Linked DNA regions of Homo sapiens. The protein of the gene in region 3 interacts with the protein of the main gene of each other region in a biochemical or structural test. Each region holds a gene or a part of one and is shown on either strand. Other genes may lie near its edges.

Region 1 (5,048 bases), on a different chromosome or scaffold from region 3:
TCTCCCAGGATGCAACTCTTGGAGGTTAGGATGCTTTCACACCCATGATCCTTAACTGCTAAGGATGTGGTTTCTTAAGTGCACTCTTGGTGGACTAAGTCTCATTCACCAGAATTAAATTCTTTCTGCTTGCTACTGTGAGAGGATGAGTAGGATATTTCAGAGAAACTGGTTTATAGCCCCCAAAAAAGTGACATTTGCTCTGTAACTGTGCTTTGCTTTCAGCAACAAACTACTGGGAATGGCACGGTGAAATACTACAGAAGACACACACCAGGGATCCCCTTTGATACTGATCATCTCCATTGCAAATGACACATTATGCAAACCAGATACACCAAATGGGCCACGAGGATGGAGGGGAGGGGATCAACCCCTCAAAAGAGTCCAAGACCACGTTCTGGTATCTAAGTCATCACCTACACACTAACTGTATGGTCAAGTTCCAACGTGGGAATATGTTTTTCTTGATTACGGTAGGTCCAGTTTCCCTAGAGATAAAAATCCAAATCACAGAAACAAGTGACCAGCCTTTATCTGCACATACTAAGTTGCTTTTATTAATCCAGAACGGCATGCTACAGATACTGTACAGCATGAACATTTATTCATTACAAAAATGGCTTCCAAACCATTAAAAATGAACTTGGAATAAGAGCATAAAACGGAACAGTAACATCACAACTGTTAGGAAACATTCAAAGTATTCACAAAAAATGTTATAGTTAGCATTTTAATAAACCAGAGAAAAATCGGAGACAGTTTTACAATCGCTTCATGTCAACTACAATGGCACTGAATGAACAGGTTTCAGCTTTATACAGCATTTTGCAACATCAACATGCCTAGGTTTTTTTTATTTTTAAAGTCTGCTGCCTACTCGTATGTAATATGTGTACATAAAAGCGGCAGCTGGTTTTTCGTTTAAGAGTAATCTAATATACAGAATTTTGGCCCTTAAGGGTTTATACCTCTTCATTTAAAATGCTTTCTGGACAATCTGCTACCAAACACATTTTGTTATAGGTGACATTAAAACTACATACAAATCTACCTATGTAACATCACAGCAAAACATGATGAACAAAAATTACAGCATCAAAAAGAGGGAGAAAGCTAAATTCACTGAGAATTTTGGCACGTAAAGTTTTGTACACGGTCAGTCCGGGTCCTAAGGGCGCAGGGTAGGGCATCCCACTGGGAGTTCAAAGGGGAAACGAAGATGGTTCCCACTGCTGCTCAGACAGTGTCGCTAAAATTCCCTCACTCATTTTCAAGTCTTGTTTTACATAATGGCTTTTAAAGCAACTTTTGTTAATGCTACTGATCCTTAATGCAACTATTAATGTCCATTTGGTGACATCTGGGTTTCATACAGAAAAAAAAAAGTCAAAAAGGGGAAACAAAAATATATATACACATTTTATATATAAACTTAAAAACCTTGTACAAATGAGTTGTTATATATAAGATGCTTATGCTAAGGGGGAAAAAAACTTTATACAGTTTCAAGAAAAAGGAAAACATATTTAAAAAGGGACGACATACAGGTACGACAAGCAATCTCTAAAGCAATAAATACTACTGGCCCAACAGCGTTGTGATTCTATTAAGTGTTGAGTAGCGTCCCCTCCCCCCAAAAGAACAACACCATGGAACAAGGTATATTAACACATTTTTACCCTTTGTTTCTGTACATTTAAACAATAACAAGTAACATCACAATAAGAGTTGTTTCACACAGAAAAAAAAAAAAAAAGTAACGGCACTGCATTCATGGTGCCCTTACGGTTTAAAAACCAGATGTAAAATGATTGGTTCGCAAGCTCGTATTTAATACAAATAATACAGAACCAACTCCTTCTGGAGGGCTGCTTCAAAATTGCTTTTTTTTTCTTTTTGTTTTTTAATCAGTCTTTTAAAACTAAGCTATCCGAACTACATAACAGTTATGTATATATATATATTTTTTAAACGCTACAAAGACTTTAAACAGCTGTTGATAAAAATTTTGGTAGAATCATGAGGTTCTTCTCTCATCTACATATTTAAAAGGAGAAATTGAAATAAGAATGGGTCAAATATTGACCAATGAACTCGATAAACATCAACTAATGTAGCCACATGGCACAAAATTAAGAGAGTACAAAACAAAACCTTTCAAGGTGGGGGTGGGGGGCAAATTAAGAAAAGTGAAACAAAACCATAAACAAAGCAGCGGGGTTCACGACGCTAAAGCTATTCTAAAGACTTGGTGACGAGCGACAGCGGCTGGGGCTGGGTCCCGGCCAGGGAGCTGTGGGAATGTAAGGAAGAAGTCGACGGCTGTGCAATTGATGAGGAGGGGGCGGCAGGCTGCAAAGCGGCTGGGGGCAGGTCCAGGGCCCCGTTGGGACAGAGGGCGGAGGCCTTGTGGGTGGCCTCAGCGAGCAGGAGGGCGGGTGGCGGAGGCATCATGGACAGGTGGGCCAGGGGGTCGGGCTTCAGGGACAGCGACAGAGGCTGGGTCTGCTCAGTCTGTGACTTGGCGTCTCGGGGAGGGGAGCCTAGCAGGTTCGGGGAGGGGGGAGGCGAATCTAGTAAGCTTCCATCTGAAGAGGGTGGGCTGAGGCAGCTGCCTTCACCTTGTATGTAGCGAACGCACTTTTTTTTTCTCCTAGAAACAGGGGAGAGAGTTATCTGTGAATAGAGGGCACAGATGCCAAGGGAGAGAGTTACCTAATGCTCACACCCAAGCTGAGGTCACCTAAGGGATGTCCCACAGAGGTGGCACGCCCAGTGGTCCGAGGACAATTACAGTGGCGCCCCCCCAGGGTGGGTCGCTTACTTCACAGTGCCCAGATCTAAGCCTGCTCTGGCAAACAACTTATTTAAGAGTCTGAACTCTCTACTTGCTTCCCCCAACCCCTACTAAACACCCATGCCCCACCATGCCCAAATTATATACGAGAGCAGCATGGAGGCGGCCACCTGCAGATGGTGGCATCTATTTGCCAAAAAGTGGCTTTGTCCAAATTGAGAAGAACTGAAAAGCTCTTTTGGCTTAGACAGTCCCTCACTTTCCCATCAAGTTTCCTCGGCCCTTCACTCCCATTCCCACCACTACCACCCCCATCCCCCAGTGATGTGTGTGTGTGAGTGTGTGAGTGTGAGTGTGTGTGTGTTTAAAAGAGAAAGACAGAGCTCCTTCCCCAGCCGCCTCGTATCAATATGAAACTCTCAAAATGCTCACTGTTGAGCCCACATAGCTGAAGGCAGCGCTAGCAAGAGGCTTAAAGGTTTTAACACACCACCACCATGAGGCTGCTGGCGCCCAGAGAGCTTTCGGGCTTGTCTGTTAAGAACCACACCAAATCAAGAGAGGTCAGAATCAGGTGAGAAGGGAGGAAGGGAAACAAAAATAAAACAAAATAAACTTAAAACAAAAACAAAAAACAAAAAACGAAACAAAAAAAAGAAACCACCAAAAACAGGTAGAAGAGGATAAACAAAGGTGGGGGAGGGGGAAGAATAAGAAAAACAGAAAATGATTCAAAGGAACGAGAATAACTGGTTGTATGGCCTGCAGGTTGTGGATTAAATTAAGATTCAAACTTGATTTTTTTTTTTTTTTTAAGATTTGGGGCTTTCCCCTCCCCCACCCCGTAGTGAGAAGGTTGGAAGGAGAGATGGTGAGGATGGGATGGATGGAGGGGCATCCTGCTCTTGTCAATATGCCAAGGCTAGTCAATGGAGGGTGCAGCACAAGCCGGTCACCGAAGTGACTACAAAGAAGAAGTGCCAGGGAATCGCAGCATGGACCTTCCTGGGTTTGGGTTATCGTGATTCGTGTTTAAACCAGAAAGACTAATTTTGCCCTGCACCAAAACCAGCATCTCCCCTCTTCACTACTCATTCATGTAAGAAATAGGAATGAGAATTTCAGAGCCCTTCTTGCTTAGCATCAAAGGATGAGGTCGGGGAAAATCAACTCAAGAAATTGAGCATGTGACTTCAAAGCTTCTCCTCCCATTAATCCCAGTCTGATGGGATGGTATTTGGTAAGGAAAGGTGAGCCTGGGGATCAACCCCACTAATGCTATAAAAATAATGCAGATACAGGAAGTGTGCTCATCTAAGGACCCTAGAATATTGTCAGAACCATGGCTGATAACACTCCAACTGGAAACACGTGTGTAAGCACTGGCCAGCTTTCTGCCGCTGGAAGCAACCAAGATGCTGCCTGCTTGAAGGCAACCACTGTCAGACAATGTCACTGGCCTTGGAAAGGAAGGGTGTGCTGAGTTCCTCCTCTCAGTCTGTGCCCCAGAGCTGTCTGATCATGCCCCTCTGTGCTTGGGGTTTGGACTCAGCAAGATGGCAGGAAGGCAGGGAAGGAGGGGAGGGGTGTAAGGGAGCATGCTCAGTCCTCCCTGCCTCCCAGAGGCTGAGATTCATGGGGGCTAGTGGCCTCAGGGTCTGTCTGTTCCTTCTGGGTCAGAAGGAACTCTAGGGGAGCAAGCACCACCCCCTCTCACCCTCAATTTGGCAAGGTTCCTTTTTCTCCCTGGGAGAGAGTAAATAGACTATGGGTTCTGCTTCCATCCCAGAAACCAAGATAAATAATTAAGCCTCTCAGAGTTTTAAACCACCTTAGCCTGCAGATCAAAACATGCTCAAAAAACTAAGATGTCCATGCATTTTAAAAATGGGAGAAGGAAAGGAGGTGGGGAGGGGGAGGGCATAAGCAAAACTGAGAAAGCAACAGAGAAAAACAGAGAGAGGAAAGGAAAGGGAGAAAGAAAGAAGCAGGGAGAACAACCAGGAAGACAAGGGAACAGCACCAAGCAGCATTCCATGCTATATTAGGGCAGAGTGAAAAGATGGGAAAAGCAACTTGGTGGGCTCAAAACAGAATCTTGTTAAAATGTCCACAAATGTCAAATGAAACTAGAAACCTTGTGTGGCAAGCTAGAAGCCCTGATTGGCTAGGAGCATTCTGGTACCTTCCTCACCCCTCCCACCCTCATGACGTGGAAGTTTCCAGATCATAGGAATGAGAGGGGTAT
Region 2 (7,116 bases), on a different chromosome or scaffold from region 3:
CTTTCGCTGAATGCTTTCGATGAACGAGGCACTGCGGTCAGCACTTCACGGTACATTATTTCATTTATTCGTCACAACCACCAATGAGCATGTTACTGTTTAAATCATCATTCTAGGCCGGGCGCAGTGGCTCACGCCTGTGATCACAGCACTTTGGGAGGCTGAGGTGGGCGGATCATGAGGTCAGGAAATCGAGACTGTCCTGGCTAACACGGTAAAACCCCGTCTCTACTAAAAGTACAAAATATTAGCTGGGCGTGGTGGCGGGCGCCTGTAGTCCCAGCTACTCGGAAGGCTGAGGCAGGAGAATAGCATGAACCCGGGAAGCGGAGCTTGCAGTGAGCGGAGATCGCACCACTGCACTCCAGCCTGGGCAACAGGGCAAGACTCCATCTCAAAAAAATAAAATAAAATAAAATAAAATAAAAATAAATCATCATTCTATAGGTGAAGAAATTGGGACTCAGGTTAAATGACTTGTTCAAGATTGTGCAGTTAGCAAACGGCAGACCAGTTATTTGAGTTCATGCTTGTCACACTCCTAAGTCTAAGAACGCGGCTCTTAACTCATCTGCCCGGCTGTCTCCCTGGAGGCGGGAGGCCATTGTGAAAGCAGGGTTATAGACAGTGGGGTAGAGGTGTGCAGGGTGGAAGGGTGGCAGAGGCCAAGCAGGGCCCTGGCAGTGCTGGCCTGGGGTATGTGAGTCCAGTCTAGAACAGTGGGAGACATGTTGAAGAGGAACTGTGACAAGACCTACTACCAGGAGGAATGTATTGTGAAGAATCAAAGCTGACTCACCAGGTTTCTAGCCTTTCTTTCTTTCTTTCTTTTTTTTTTTTGTCGGAGTTTGGAATGTATTGTGAAGAATCAAAGCTGACTCACCAGGTTTCTAGCCTTTCTTTCTTTCTTTCTTTCTTTCTTTCTTTCTTTCTTTCTTTCTTTCTTTCTTTCCTTTCTTCCTTTTCTTTCTTCCTTCCTTCCTTCCTTCCTTCCTTCCTTCCTTCCTTCCTTTCCTTCTTTCCTTCTTTCTTTCTTTTTTTTGACGGAGTTTCACTCTGTTGCCAGGCTGGAGTGCAGTGGCGTGATCTCGGCTCACTGCAACCTCCGCCTCCAGGGTTCAAGTGATTCTCCTGACTCAGCCTCCCGAGTAGCTGGGACTACAGGTGCGTGCCATCAACGCCCAGCTAATTTTTTGTATTTTTAGTAGAGATGGACTTTCGCCATGTTGGCCAGGATGGTCTCGATCTTCTGACCTCGTGATCCGCCCGCCTTGGCCTTCCAAAGTGCTGGGATTACAGGCGTGAGCTACCATGCCCAGTCTCTAGCCTTTCTTACCGTGTGCTGTGGACAGTTAATGGTGTAACTTTAAAACTTGGGAGGAGGGGAGTTCTGTAGTCAGAAGTTTGAGAAATGCCTGACTAATCCAAATTAAACAGGTTTCTCTGTTGTAGGCCGCCTCAGAACCTTTAGTGCTGAGGTGCAATGATTCCTTACAGGGTGTTATAGCATGTAACGTACTTTGGGAAAAGCTATGTTGATGAGGGAGATTGATTATTCCTTATAGGCCAGAGCTAGGTCTGTTCATCCCACAGTCCCCTCATTTTAGAATAAGACTGTCAGGAAATATGAGGCATTGAAGTGGTGTGTGAATGGATGACTGAAAGAATGGCTAAAAGGCAGTTCAGAGGGAAAGGCAGAGGATAAGTCCCAGAAATCACCTGTATTCTAGGCAGTGGTAAAACCCAGGTGTACTTCTGCTTCATGGGGCAAGACAGGGGTCTCTCCCTGTTGACATGCGGAGTTAAAGGTGATGGGGACATATTGGTAGGAAGGTTCTCTGGGCAGTCGGAGAGGCACGGAATGGAAACTCAGGTGAGAAGTTGGCTGGAAGGTGGATTTGGGAATACCTTATACAGACTGATCTCCACAGCCAAGGATGTGGTTGATTCTTGACTAGAGTCAACACCAGTGCTTCAACCCCAGCTGCACGTTAGAATCATCTGGGAAACTTGAGATATTCATGCTCTGGTCCCAACTCTATATATTCTAATTTAATTAGTCTAGGTCAGTGGTTCCCAAACTTGTGTGCCCATTGGAGTCACCTGAGGACTCTTTTAAACATTACGAAGTCCAAGTCTCCCCCAGACCAATTAATCTCATTCACTGTGAGTGGGACACAGGCATCAGTATTTTTTAATTTTTTAATTTGTTTTTTAGAGACAGGGTCTTGCTCTGTTGCCCAGGCAGGAGTGCAGTGGTGCACAATCATAGTTCACTGCAGCCTTGAACTCCTGGACTCAGGCAGTCTCCCTGCCTCAGCCTCCCAAGTAGCTGGGACTACAGGTGCTCACCACCATGCCTGGCTAATTAAAAAAAATTTTTTTTTTTTGTAGAGACAGGGGTCTTGCTGTGTTGCCAAGGCTGGTCTCAAATTCCTGGGCTCAAGCAATCCTACCTCTGTCTCCCAAAGTGTTGAGATGACAGGTATGAGCCACCATGCCTGGCCAGGCATCAGTATTTTTTTGAAGCTCCCAGGTGAATCCAATGTGCAGACAACTTTGGGTACTGCTGACATAGGCATTTTTTAAAAAACTCCCCTGATTTTATTTTATTTAATTAATTAATTTTATTTTTTTGAGACGGAATCTTGCTCTGTCGCCCAGGCTGGGGTGCAGTGGCGCGATCTCGGCTCACTGCAAGCTCCACCTCCCGGGTTCATGCCATTCTCCTGCTTCAGCCTCCCAAGTAGCTGGGACTACAGGCGCCCGCCACCACGCCCAGCTAATTTTTTGTATTTTTAGTAGAGACGGAGTTTCACCGTGTTAGCCGGGATGGTCTCGATCTCCTGACCTCGTGATCCACCCGCCTCGGCCTCCCAAAGTGCTAGGATTACAGGCGAGAGCCACTGCGTCCAGCCAACTCCCCTGATTTTAATGTGCAGGCAGGATTGAGACTAACTACTCTAGTCTAATGGTTCTGAAACTTGAGCAGGCTTCAAAATCACTTGGAGGCCTTGTTGAAACTCAAGTTTCAAGTGTGGGCTGCATTCCCAGAGTTTCTGATTCAGTAGGTCTTGGGGAGCGGAGCTGTGAATTTGCATTTCTAGCTAGTCCTTAAAGGTTGCTGATGCACCTGGTCTGGGGACCACACTGGGGTTCCTCTGATCTCAATGGGAAGAATGGAATCAGGAGTGGTAGAGGCTGGATACTTATTAAACAGAGATGGGGTGAGCACAATTATCTCAAGAAGCCACAGGGCTAGAGTGGTAACCAGAGTGTTTTGACTGGCAGGAACCTGTGGGTATAATCATGGGGAGTCCCTGGAATTAAAATGGTTGGGGGCCAGGCACGGTGGCTCATGCCTATAATCCCAGCACTTTGGGAGGCCAAGGCGAGTGGGTCACCTGAGGTCAGGAGTTTGAGACCAGCCTGGCCAACATGGCGAAACCCCATCTCTACTAAAAATACAAAAATTAGCCAGGCGTGGTGGTGGGTGCCTATAATCCCAGCTACTCGGGAGGCTGAGGCAGGAGAATTGTTTGAACCCGAGAGGCGGAGGTTGCAGTGAGCCGAGAGCACACCACTGCACTCCAGCCTGGTGACAGAGCGAGACTCCGTCTCAAAAAGAAAAAAAAAATGGATGGGATGCTTACTAAAGTGCTGTTCGGCATATACAGAGAGGTCATGGGAGGTCATCAAGAACCATCTCAAGGACTGGAACCTAGGAAGGTGATTGTAGGGCTAGGAAAGGTACGCATGTGATCAGGCATTGGTACAGGCCGTGGCATAGAAGAAACTTCAGCCTAGAGATAGGGCAGGGCATGGAGGGTAGGTGGTGACCTGTTTCATGTGGTTGAGGGAGAGAACCTGGTTTAGGAATTGGCATGTCATGAGGTTTATCCCAAGTCTTTCACAGCCAGTGTTGATGATACAGAAGCGAAATAAAAGTGATAGCACCTTTCTGTTACTCATTTTTCTGGAATGATTATTGGGTGCCTCCTGTGTTTCAGGCACTGTGCTAGTGCTGGGGATGCGACAGGGATCGGACCCAGTCCTTGCCCCATGGTGCTCTCAGCTAGATGAGCAAGACAAACAAAAACAAGCAAATAACAAATAATTACAAACTCCTAGGACTAGTGAGGATACAAGACCAACACATACAAATCAACTGCATTTCTCTATACTCACAGTGAACATGTCAAAACTAAAATAAAAAACACTACCATTTATTGGCCGGCCGCAGTGGCTCATGCCTGTAATCCCAGCACTTTGGAAGGTCGAGGCAAGTGGATCACCTGAGGTCAGGAGTTCGAGACCAGCCTGGCCAATATGATGAAACCTGGTCTTTACTAGAAATACAAAAATTAGCTGGGCGTGGTGGTGGGTGGTTGTAATCCCAGCCACTTGGGAGGCTGAGACGGGAGAATCACTTGAATCTGGGAGATGCAGGTTACAGTGAGCGGATATTGTGCCACTGCACTTCAACCTGGGTGACAGAGTGAAACTGTCTCAAAAAAACAAAACAAACAAAATGGCTGGGCGTGGTGGTTCACGCCTGTAATCCCAGCACTTTGGGAGGCTGAGGTGGGCAGATCACAAGGTCAGGAGATCGAGACCATCCTGGCTAACACAGAGAAACCCCATCTCTACTGAAAATACAAAAATTAGCTGGGCGTGGCAGTGTGTGCCTGTAGTCCCAGCTGCTGGGGAGGCTGAGGCACGAGAATGACGTGAACCTGGGAGGCAGAGCTTGCAGTGAGCCAAGATTGCGCCACTGCACTCCAGCCTGGGCGACAGAGCGAGACTCCGTCTCAAAAAAACAAGCAAATAAACAAACAAACAAAAACACAATGCCATTTATAGTTGTTTCAGAGAAATGAAATACTTGGGTATAAGTCTAACAAAGCATGTGTAGAATCTGTATGCTGAAAATTTTTAAATTGTTGATGAAAGAGATCAAAGATGACTCGGATAAATGGATGACATGTACTTTGTTCATGGATTGGGAGACTGAACATAATGAAGATTTCAATTGTCCCCAAGTTGATCTGTAATTTAACGCAGTTCCTATTAAAATCCCAGCAAGTTTTTTTTTTCTATAGACATAGACAAGCTTATTCTAATAATTACGGGAAGACCAGTTTTACCTAGATTAGCTAAAACAATTTGGAAAAAGGATAGCTGGAGGAATCAGTCTACCCAGGGTTAAGACTTGCTATATAGCTACATAATTAAGCCTAGTGTGGTATTGACCAAGGGACAGATGGACACAGATCAGTGGAACAGAATAGATAACCCAGAAATAGACCTCCACAAGTATACACAACTAATTTTTTTTTTTTTGAGACAGAGTCTTGCTCTGTCACCCAGGATGGAGGGTACTGCTGCTATTACAGCTCACTGCAGCCTTGACCTCCCTGGGCTCAGGCAATCCTTCCACCCCAAGCCTCCCGAGTAGCTGGGACTACAGGTGTGGGACACCATGCCTGGTTATTTGTATTTGTATTTTTTTTTTTTTAGACGGAGTTTCTCTCTCTCTCTTTTTTTTTTTTTTGAGATGGAGTTTCGCTCTTGTTGCCTGACCTGGAGTGCAATGGCGTGATCTCGGCTCACCGCAACCTCCGCCTCCCGGGTTCAAGCGATTCTCCTACAGGCACATGCCACCAGGCCTGGCTAACTTTTTTGTATTTTTAGTAGAGACGGGGTTTCTCCATGTTGGTCAGGCTGGTCTCGAACTCCTGACCTCAGGTGATCCACCCGCCTCGGACTCCCAAAGTGCTGGGATTACAGGTGTGAGTCAACGCGCCTGGCCTGAGTTTCTCTCTTTTTGCCCAGACTGGAGTGCAATGGCGTGATCTCGGCTCACTGCAACCCCCGCCTCCCGGGTTTGATTCACCTGCCTCGACCTCACGGGTAGCTGGGATTACAGGTGCATGCCACCATGCCCAGCTAATCTTGTATTTTTAATAGAGATGGGGTTTCACCATGTTGGCCAGGCTGGTCTTGAACTCCTGACCTCAGGTGATCGCCCGCCTCGGCCTCCCAAAGTGCTGGGATCACTGGCGTGAGCCACCGCGCCCAGCCTGTTTGTATTTTTTTTATAGAGACAGGGTTTCATTATGTTGCCCAGGCTGGCCTCAAACTCCTGGGCTCAAGCAATGCTCCCGCCTCAGCCTCCCAAAATGCTGGGATTACACACAATTGATTTTTGACAAGGGTACAGAAACAATGTGTTGGAGGAAAGACAGCCTTTGAACAAAGGGCGCTGGAGCTATTGGACATCATAGGCTAAAAATATACAATAATCAACCTAAACCTTATACCTTATACAAAAATTGAAAATGGATCATAGACTTAAATGTAAAACCAAATTGTCTAATTTTTAGAACAAAACAGGAGAAAATCTAGGCAAAGAGTTCTTAGATTTGATGCCAAAAGTATGATCCATGAAAAAATTTTTGATTAATGGGGCCTAATCAAAATTTAAAACTTTTGCTGTGCAAAACAGAATGAAAAGAGAAGTACAGAATGGGAAACATAGTTACAAGCCATGTATTCAACAAAGGACTTGTATCTAGAATGAAGAAAGAATTCTTAAAACCCAACAATAAAAAATCAAACAATTCAATTAGAAAATGGGCAAGGGCTGGCTCACACCTGTAATCCCAGCACTTTGAGAGGCTGAGGTGGTCAGATTGCTTGAGCCCAGGAGTTCAAAACTGGCCTGGGCAACGTGGCAAAAACCCTGTCTCTACCAAAAAAATACAAAAATTAGCTGGGTGTGGTGGCACATGCCTGTAGTCCCAGCTACTTGGGGGAGCTGATGTGGGAGGATCACCTCAGCCTGGGAGGTCAAGATTGCAGTGAGCTGTGACCATGCCACTGAATTCTAGCCTGGGTGACACAGTGAGACGTGAGACCCTATCTCAAAAAAAAAAAAAAAGCCAGGCGTGGTGGCTTACGCCTGTAATCCCAGCACTTCGGGAGGCCAAGGCAGGTTGATCACCTGAGGTCGGGAGTTTGAGATCAGCCTGACCAACATGAAGAAACCTCGTCTCTACTAAAAATACAAAATTAGCCAGGCGTGGTGGTGCATGCCTGTAATCCTAGCTACTC
Region 3 (7,338 bases):
GATTGTTGTGGTGCGTGAGAGTAAAGGTAAAATATGGTTAGAGTTTTCCCTACACAATTGGTTATTGTGGAGGTTAAAGAACTCCATCATGGATGTTAACATGCTAGGTTGACTTCTGATTAACCCCAGTTCCAGGAATGCCCCTAAGAGTTCTTCTTTATGATTCCTTGTGTAAAAAGAGCATGGTCTTAATCATAAATCCTGCCCTTAAGCAAATTATAGGCTGTAATGCACATAGTATTCTTGTCTTTCCCTCAGGGGTGAACTTTAATTTTCCTGCACATTATGTATACCCTTTCCTTATGGTCTGCAGGATAACAATACGAAGATCCACCTGTCTTGCTGCTGCCCAAGACCACACTTCCATCCACAAGTTCCCCAGTAAATCACCTGCTACCAGCAAACTGGATTTGTTTGCCTCTTCTTTGGATTTTTGGCTTCTTCTGCATTTGAGAGTCACTTTGCATATATAGCCCTTTCATGGAACAGTTGTGTATGTACATAGTCAAGAGTAATATTTAGCTAATATTTGCTAAAATAAAAATATTTAGCAACTGGAACCAAATTGGCACTGGTCATTCAGGACAGACTACTCACCAGTCAGGATGGACAAGGCTGAAAAAGACTAGGAAAATGGTACTGGTACAAACCAGCTGAGTGTCAACACTGCACATGGTAGCAATTTACAAAGATACCAAAGGGTAGAGAGTGAAACATGAGCCTCTCTCCTGTTCCATCCTCCAGCTTCCCAGTTCACTTCTTCAAAGGCAATCACTTTTACCAGCAAAACAGGATTTTGAAGGTTTGTAGTAAGATAAAGCCAGGCCTTGTCAAGAAATCAGTATTCTAAATTATTTTATTTTTCTCTTTTGCATATCAAGATCCATCGAACTTGACTGGAGAGTTTTATTTACTTATTTTGATTTTTTATTTTTTGAGACAGAGTCCCGCTCTGTCACCCAGGCTGGAGAGCAGTGGTGCCATCTCAGCTCACTGCAACTTCTGCCTCCTGGGTTCAAGCCACTCTTCTGCCTCAGCCTCTGGAGTAGCTGGGACTATAGGCATGCATACCATGCCCGGTTAATTTTTGTATTTTAGTAGAGACAGGTTTCGCCATGTTGTCCAGGCTGGTCACGAACTCCTGACCTCAAGTGATCTGCCTGCCTCGGCCTCCCAGAGTGCTGGGATTAGGAGCATGATCCACCACGCCTGGTCTTGACTGGAGAGTTTTAGAGCACCCAATCAGCAAGAAGTGGCAAGGGGAAAAGTCCATTCCTTCTAATCCAAGAGACTGTAGGAGAAGAAACAAAGTAGGGGCTTCATTCTGGGGGGGAAAGGTGGTTTAGATGGGTTGGAGTGTGTGCCCTGGAAGCACATGGCCTTACAGGCTGTTCAGAACCAGAGGGAGAACCACAAAGGATGTCATAGACAGTAGTTGTGTTGAGAGCCAGAGAGCCTGCTAAGGAGCCTGCCATGTTGAGGGTTAAGGAATTGGAAGGTGATCGTGGCAGGAATCAGAAGGTTTTACAGTGTTGGTGAAGCTAGGACATATCTCAGGGCCTTGGCCCAGCTGAGAGACAGGTCCGAGCAATCTTCATCAGCAAGTTTCAGCAAGAGAACACCCAGGACACATTACATCTCAAGGAGCAGAGAAAATTAGTCTGGCTAAAGAAAATCCGGCAAAAATGCAAAAGAGAACTTGCAGATTTCAGGAGCCAGATTCCCCTATAGTGCCTTGAGTTCATGTCAGCTACCCATCATCCTCCCTTCCCTTCTCCCAAATGCCATTCTGAGGGAAGCCCACTGAGAGGGACTGACTGGTTTAACCCAAACTTAAAGGAACTGTTTAAATTATTGCAGCACAGTTTACCAAATCGGTCTACATCTAGGGTTTTCCCTTCTAATGACCAAAGGCTGAGGACATTTTATTTACGCAGCTGAATGTATTTTGAGTAAATCTATGACATTCTTATAAAAATATCAAGTAGCTTTTCACCAGAAATGTTGCCAAGAAAGAAGATTGTGTCATTGGTAATTGCAACTTATTTTTTTAAGCTTAACTTTCCAAGGGTATCTATATTTTTCTTATGTCCAAGTTTTTGCTGGATTTCCACATATTGCCAGCTATATGCTTACGTGTATACCGAATGACTTATTAGAATATATGGGGGAGTGATACAAATATGTTTGGATTAGACATAAGTAAAGCTGCCGTTGCAGAGAAAGAATGAAGCAAATAAAATTAGGGTCACAAAATTAATGTTATGGTTAGATATTCCCAATGAATAATGGGAAACACTATTATACAGAAAATACACCTTACTTCCTAAATGGTCAGAATGAATGAAATGAGTGGAATTATCAAAAAAGTAAAATGTAGGCCAGGCACAGTGGCTCAGGCCTGTAATTCCAGCACTTTGGGAGGCCAAGGTGGGCGGATCGCTGGAGGCCAGGAGTTCGAGACTAGCCTGGCCAACATGGCAAAACCCTGTCTCTACTAAAAATGCAAAAATTAGTTTGGCATGGTGGTGCATGCCTGTAATCTCAGCTACTTGGGAGGCTGAGGCAGGAGAGTTGCTTCAACCTGGAAGGCGCAGGTTGAAGTGAGCTGAGATCATTCCACTGCACCCCAGCCTGGGTGACAGAGTGAGATTCTGTCTCAAAAGAAAAAAGAAAAAAAGTGAGTTTTCTTCTCTGGGCTGTTAAAAATTTGAACTCAAAGAACCATTTTATAAGTGAATGTGAAAAGCACCTGAACTACTGCTATTAGCTGCCCCTCTCGTCACGTGCTCTTCCTCCTTCCAGGAAATCTGAAGCTAGTATTAGCTTTCTTGTCTTGCTTCCACTGCGCTTGCTGCTAAGGAGGAAAAGCAACAAAAATACAAAATATAGTTTGGTAGAGGGAATTAGCTATTCATTGGACAAATTATTATTATTCTAGGAATCAATGCTTTTGAGATGTACATTAAAACCCATTTCCTCCATAAAGTTTTCTGTTAACTCTATATATTTCTAATCATTCCATTTCCTATCCTCATTATAGCCATCGTTTAATGCAAAATTTAATACTTTGGCAAATACCATTTTTTCTCTCTCATTCTGATAGATATGTAATAATGTAAACAGGTTGAGAGCAAAGTTCATGACATCTGCATAACACCTAACAATGCCAATGTCAACATAGACAATAAATGGCAGAATTGATTTAAATAGTCCCTTAAATGGCTTCTGTTTATTCATTTAGACCATGGGGGAGGGTTTTAACAAAGGATGGTAATAAAACCTTTCTTTTCTCTGAAGCTAATTGTAGATGCTGTATAATGTTCCAGATTTTCCTTAGCTTCTTTCACGTCATTGTGGATCCCATCTTATCGATTTATCCTTTTTTTGTTCTTCTTTTTTTTTGAGAGTCTCACTCTGTCGCCAGGGCTGGAGTGCAGCGGCGCGATCGCGGCTCACTGCAACCTCTGCCTCCCGGGTACAAGCGATTCTCGTGCCTCAGCCTCCCGAGTACCTGGGATTACAGGCTCCCACCACCATGTCCGGTTAATTTTTGTATTTTTAGTAGAGATGGGATTTCATCACGTTGGCCAGGCTGGTCTTGAACTCCTGACCTCAAGTGATCCAACCGCCTTCGCTTACCAAAGGGCTGGGATTACAGGTGTGAGCCACCGCGCCCGGCCTTTTTTCTTTCTTTTTTTTTTTTTTTTTTGAGACGGAATCTCACTCTGTTACGCAGGTTGGACCATCTTATAGATTATCAATTGTACAGATAATTGCACTCCGGCCTGGGAGACAGAGTGAGTACCTGTCTCAAAAAATAAAATAAAATAAAATAAAATTAAAAAAAACACTTAAATTAGTGAATAACCTTGGTGAAAAGCCACGTCCATGCTTCTACGGCATTTCTCTTCAAAGCTAAAAAAAAAAAGAAAAAATCAAAAATCAACCCAAAGGTGTAGTAGAAGACTGCATCTGCGACCGTATTTAAGCATCGGTCATGCTGTTAAAGGAGAAAGTGGACATCCTCTCAAGGAAACTTTAATCCTGCCCCCAAAGGATTAAAATCCCGTAACAAATATTTGTTTATAACACATCTTGACAAGATCAAAACATTCTGGTAGGGCAAATAGTAAAGACTAAATCTTGAACATTGACGAAAACTTCCTGAAAGGCCCAATGTATTTGACAGGAGAGGTAACTGGGGTCCCGGGCCTAGCGAGGCGGGGCGGGGAGGCGCAGGTGTCACCGCGGGCGCCCAGCTGCTTACGTCACAACCCGCGGAAGGCGCCGTGCGCCGGTTGCTATACAGGCCGCACTTCACACCCCGTGCCTCCCCGCCTCTCCTGGCTCCTCCGCCCAGATCCCCGGCGCTCCCGCGTTCGGTGACGGCCGGGTAGGCTGTAGGCAGCGCAATGCCAAGACAGAGCTGCTGGCGGCGGCGGGCGAATCTCCCTGCACCATGAGCCTCGGCTCCGGCCCCGTTAGGGGCCGATAAGCACAGCGCACGCCGCCCTCCATTTGCCCCGGGGCCTCGGCTGCGAAGATAGCGGCGGCCGGACAGGAAGCTCGAGGAAAGCGCTGGGCCGGGTCTCTACGAACACGTGAAGGAAAAGCAGCTCCGTCCACAACGCCGCTTCGGGGCTCCTAGGTGAGAGTCTCCCCGGCGGAAGCGTGGAGGGGCCGGGGTGCCGGGAAGCGGGGCGGGGAGGAAGCCGCGGACACGGGCTGGGCACTCGGGGCTCGGGGTCGGGGTGAGTAGAGGCGGAAAAGCAGTGAAAAGGGAGGCCTTGGGCGAAGACGGGGGCTGAGGGCGGGGCGCGAGCCCGCGCCTGGAGCCCGGTGAGGGCGTGGCCTAGAGCGTGAGGCCGCGTCCTGGGGCGGGGTGAGGGGCGAGCGGGGCGGGCCCACGGCATGCTGCGAGCCCAGCCTCCCGCCAAGCACCGTCCCCCATCCAGCCCCCTGTGGGAGGAGCCGTGGGAGGGGTCGCCTCTTGCCCGGCGCGTGCGGCAGTAGCGTCTCTGCGTTCGGCCCCGCCCTACCCAGGGCCCCGCCCCCTTCCTGGCGCGCGCTGTATCCTGATGCGATCCCCCTCCCCCCTCCGGGTTCATGTAGGGAGTCGGGCCCCGGGCCGCCACCGTCACCTCGGCCGCTGCCGCTGTCGCCATCGCCTTGTTTCCCCATCCCCCGCCATGGCCGAGGACCTCTCTGCGGCCACGTCCTACACCGAAGATGATTTCTACTGCCCCGTCTGTCAGGAGGTGCTCAAAACGCCCGTGCGGACCACGGCCTGTCAGCACGTGTGAGTAGACGCCCCCTCCCCCTCGCGGAGCCGGGTTGTCGCTTAGGCCCGGCCTCCGGCCCGGGACCCCGGGCTGCCGCCTGGCGGGAACCGAGCCCGCCGCGGCCTGCCCGAGCGTCGCTGCCCCGCGAGGTCCCGTTCCCCGCCCCTCAGAGTCCCGGGGCGGCCTTTTCCTCAGCCTCGGGGCCCGCTCCCCGCGTCCAGCCCCCTCAGCCCAAGCTCCCGCTCTCCCGCTCTCCCGCTCTCCCGCTCTCCCGCTCTCCCTGGCTTTCGCGCCCCCGGGGCAGTGGCCAGGCCGTTCCCTGCGGCGTCTTCAGGCCCCGGAGGCCCCTGTCGTCTCCGCCAGGCCCGGGAGGAATTGCAGGGATCTTGGAGCCTTTTTGTTTCTTAGCAACCCGGGTGAAGGCTGGGGTGTCGAGTGTCAAAAGCGGCCGGCGGTGCTCGCGCGGGCCCGCTCGCCCCGCGACCTGCCCTGCTTTCAAGTTTCCTCTTTCAGAACCTTGGTCCGTCCCCTCGGTCCAAGAGCTCTTCTGTAACTTCCCCTCAACCCTGCTTCACAGAACACCCTCGAGAGCGTTTTGTTTCGTTTCCAGTCCACTATGTGTTAGAGGGATCTAGAATGAGTTTTCTTCTCTGGTCTCTTAAAACTGACAGGATTTTCGGGCATTGAAATGAGCGTTCCCCTTTGTTTTACCTTTCTGCTTACTTATTACTTGATTAATACAAGGGTGGAGAGGAGAAAGGAAGACTTCTGTTATGAGGAATGAGCCGAAATTGAGATGCTACCCAGGGTGGGGGAGAACACAAAGGGGTTGGGTGAGATAACGCATGCGTTTGATTGGCAGGCATATTTACAAGAACTTTGATAAAATTTTATGGACAGCTAGGGTGTGAGTAAGGGTTGGAAAGAGCCCTTGTTGAGAAGGTGTATAGCCCTTCTGACAGACCTGACTGATGATCAGAGTCCCCGGGGAACTTTTTAAGTAAACATACCAATTCCCAGGCTCCATTTCAAACTTAACAAAAGAATGTTCGGGCAGGTGGGGCCTGGAAATCTTTATTTATTTATTTATTGTATTTTTTTTTAGTAGAGACGGGGTTTCACCGTGTTAGCAAGGATGGTCTCGATCTCCTGACCTCGTGATCCTCCCGCCTCGGCCTCCCAAAGTGCTGGGATTAAAGGCGTGAGCCACCGCGCCCCGCCCGGAAATCTTTATTTTTAAAAAACACACTCAGGCTTGAAAGTTACGTGTGTTTGCAAACAACTGAAAAGAATTGACCAACCTTCTAAATGTATTTCATTCTCCTTCGACTTTTTTTTCTTTTTTTTTTGAGGTGAGGTTCTATAATTTTGTAAAGGATGGATTGAATTTTTGGTTCTTAATTGCAAATGCCCTTACTGTGGCTGTTTTCTTGATACCAACTCTTCTCATTTTTTCCCCAATCTTAACTGCACTGTCTACTTTATTTCTATTTTGTGCTGGTTGTGTGAGCCAAGAGTGTGTGGATTTTCATGATAGAAATTATGCCAGTTACGCTTTTGCTCTTTAAGGGAGATGAATGACATCTTGTTATTTTGTGCAACAAATGCAGATTCTTAGGGAAATGTTTTGAGGGATCCTTTTGCGGTTCATAGTGTGATGATTGAGTGTTCACAGGCATGTGTGAGATATGCCATCCTCAAACCTTGTTACAGGGTCAGCACATTACCCATCTGACATGAAAAAAAAAACGTTTGGAGGTGTCTAGGGCACAATATAGATCTTCCACCTTTAATCTAGCATAACTTGGTCCCTTTCCAATATTTAAAAAAAATTTAAGTGCTGTGTTGGCATTGGGTAGATAAAAGGGAGGGAGGAGAGCAAGGTGAGAGGAAGTTGTAATAGCTGCTAACTATATATATATATATAAAGCAGGTCTTTTTTGGATAGAATCATTCTAATTATCCTTTGGGTCATTGACCTAATGGGCCTCATTGTAGTTTTTAGCACTCCCCAAAATTCCGTGTAGATTGCTCTAGTCCGCTTCCCTTGTGG

Evidence for each region.
Region 1: of the proteins of RNF138 (region 3) and TCF7L2, one has a biochemical effect on the other in vitro, tested with the Homo sapiens proteins (one study listed by BioGRID).
Region 2: of the proteins of RNF138 (region 3) and RAD51D, one has a biochemical effect on the other in vitro, tested with the Homo sapiens proteins (one study listed by BioGRID).

What each region holds. Positions count from the first base shown.
Region 1 is NC_000010.11:113,163,163-113,168,210, reverse strand, and holds the end of TCF7L2 (transcription factor 7-like 2), read right to left. Parts: intron 2,657-5,048; coding exon 2,239-2,656; 3' UTR 533-2,238; downstream 1-532. UniProt on the Homo sapiens protein: Participates in the Wnt signaling pathway and modulates MYC expression by binding to its promoter in a sequence-specific manner. Acts as a repressor in the absence of CTNNB1, and as activator in its presence.
Region 2 is NC_000017.11:35,109,793-35,116,908, reverse strand, and holds part of RAD51D (DNA repair protein RAD51 homolog 4), read left to right. Parts: coding exon of another isoform or gene 1-50; intron 51-7,116. UniProt on the Homo sapiens protein: Involved in the homologous recombination repair (HRR) pathway of double-stranded DNA breaks arising during DNA replication or induced by DNA-damaging agents. Bind to single-stranded DNA (ssDNA) and has DNA-dependent ATPase activity.
Region 3 is NC_000018.10:32,087,585-32,094,922, forward strand, and holds the start of RNF138 (E3 ubiquitin-protein ligase RNF138), read left to right. Parts: upstream 1-4,289; 5' UTR 4,290-4,651; intron 4,652-5,103; exon of another isoform or gene 5,104-5,115; 5' UTR 5,116-5,192; coding exon 5,193-5,302; intron 5,303-6,919; exon of another isoform or gene 6,920-7,022; intron 7,023-7,338. UniProt on the Homo sapiens protein: E3 ubiquitin-protein ligase involved in DNA damage response by promoting DNA resection and homologous recombination.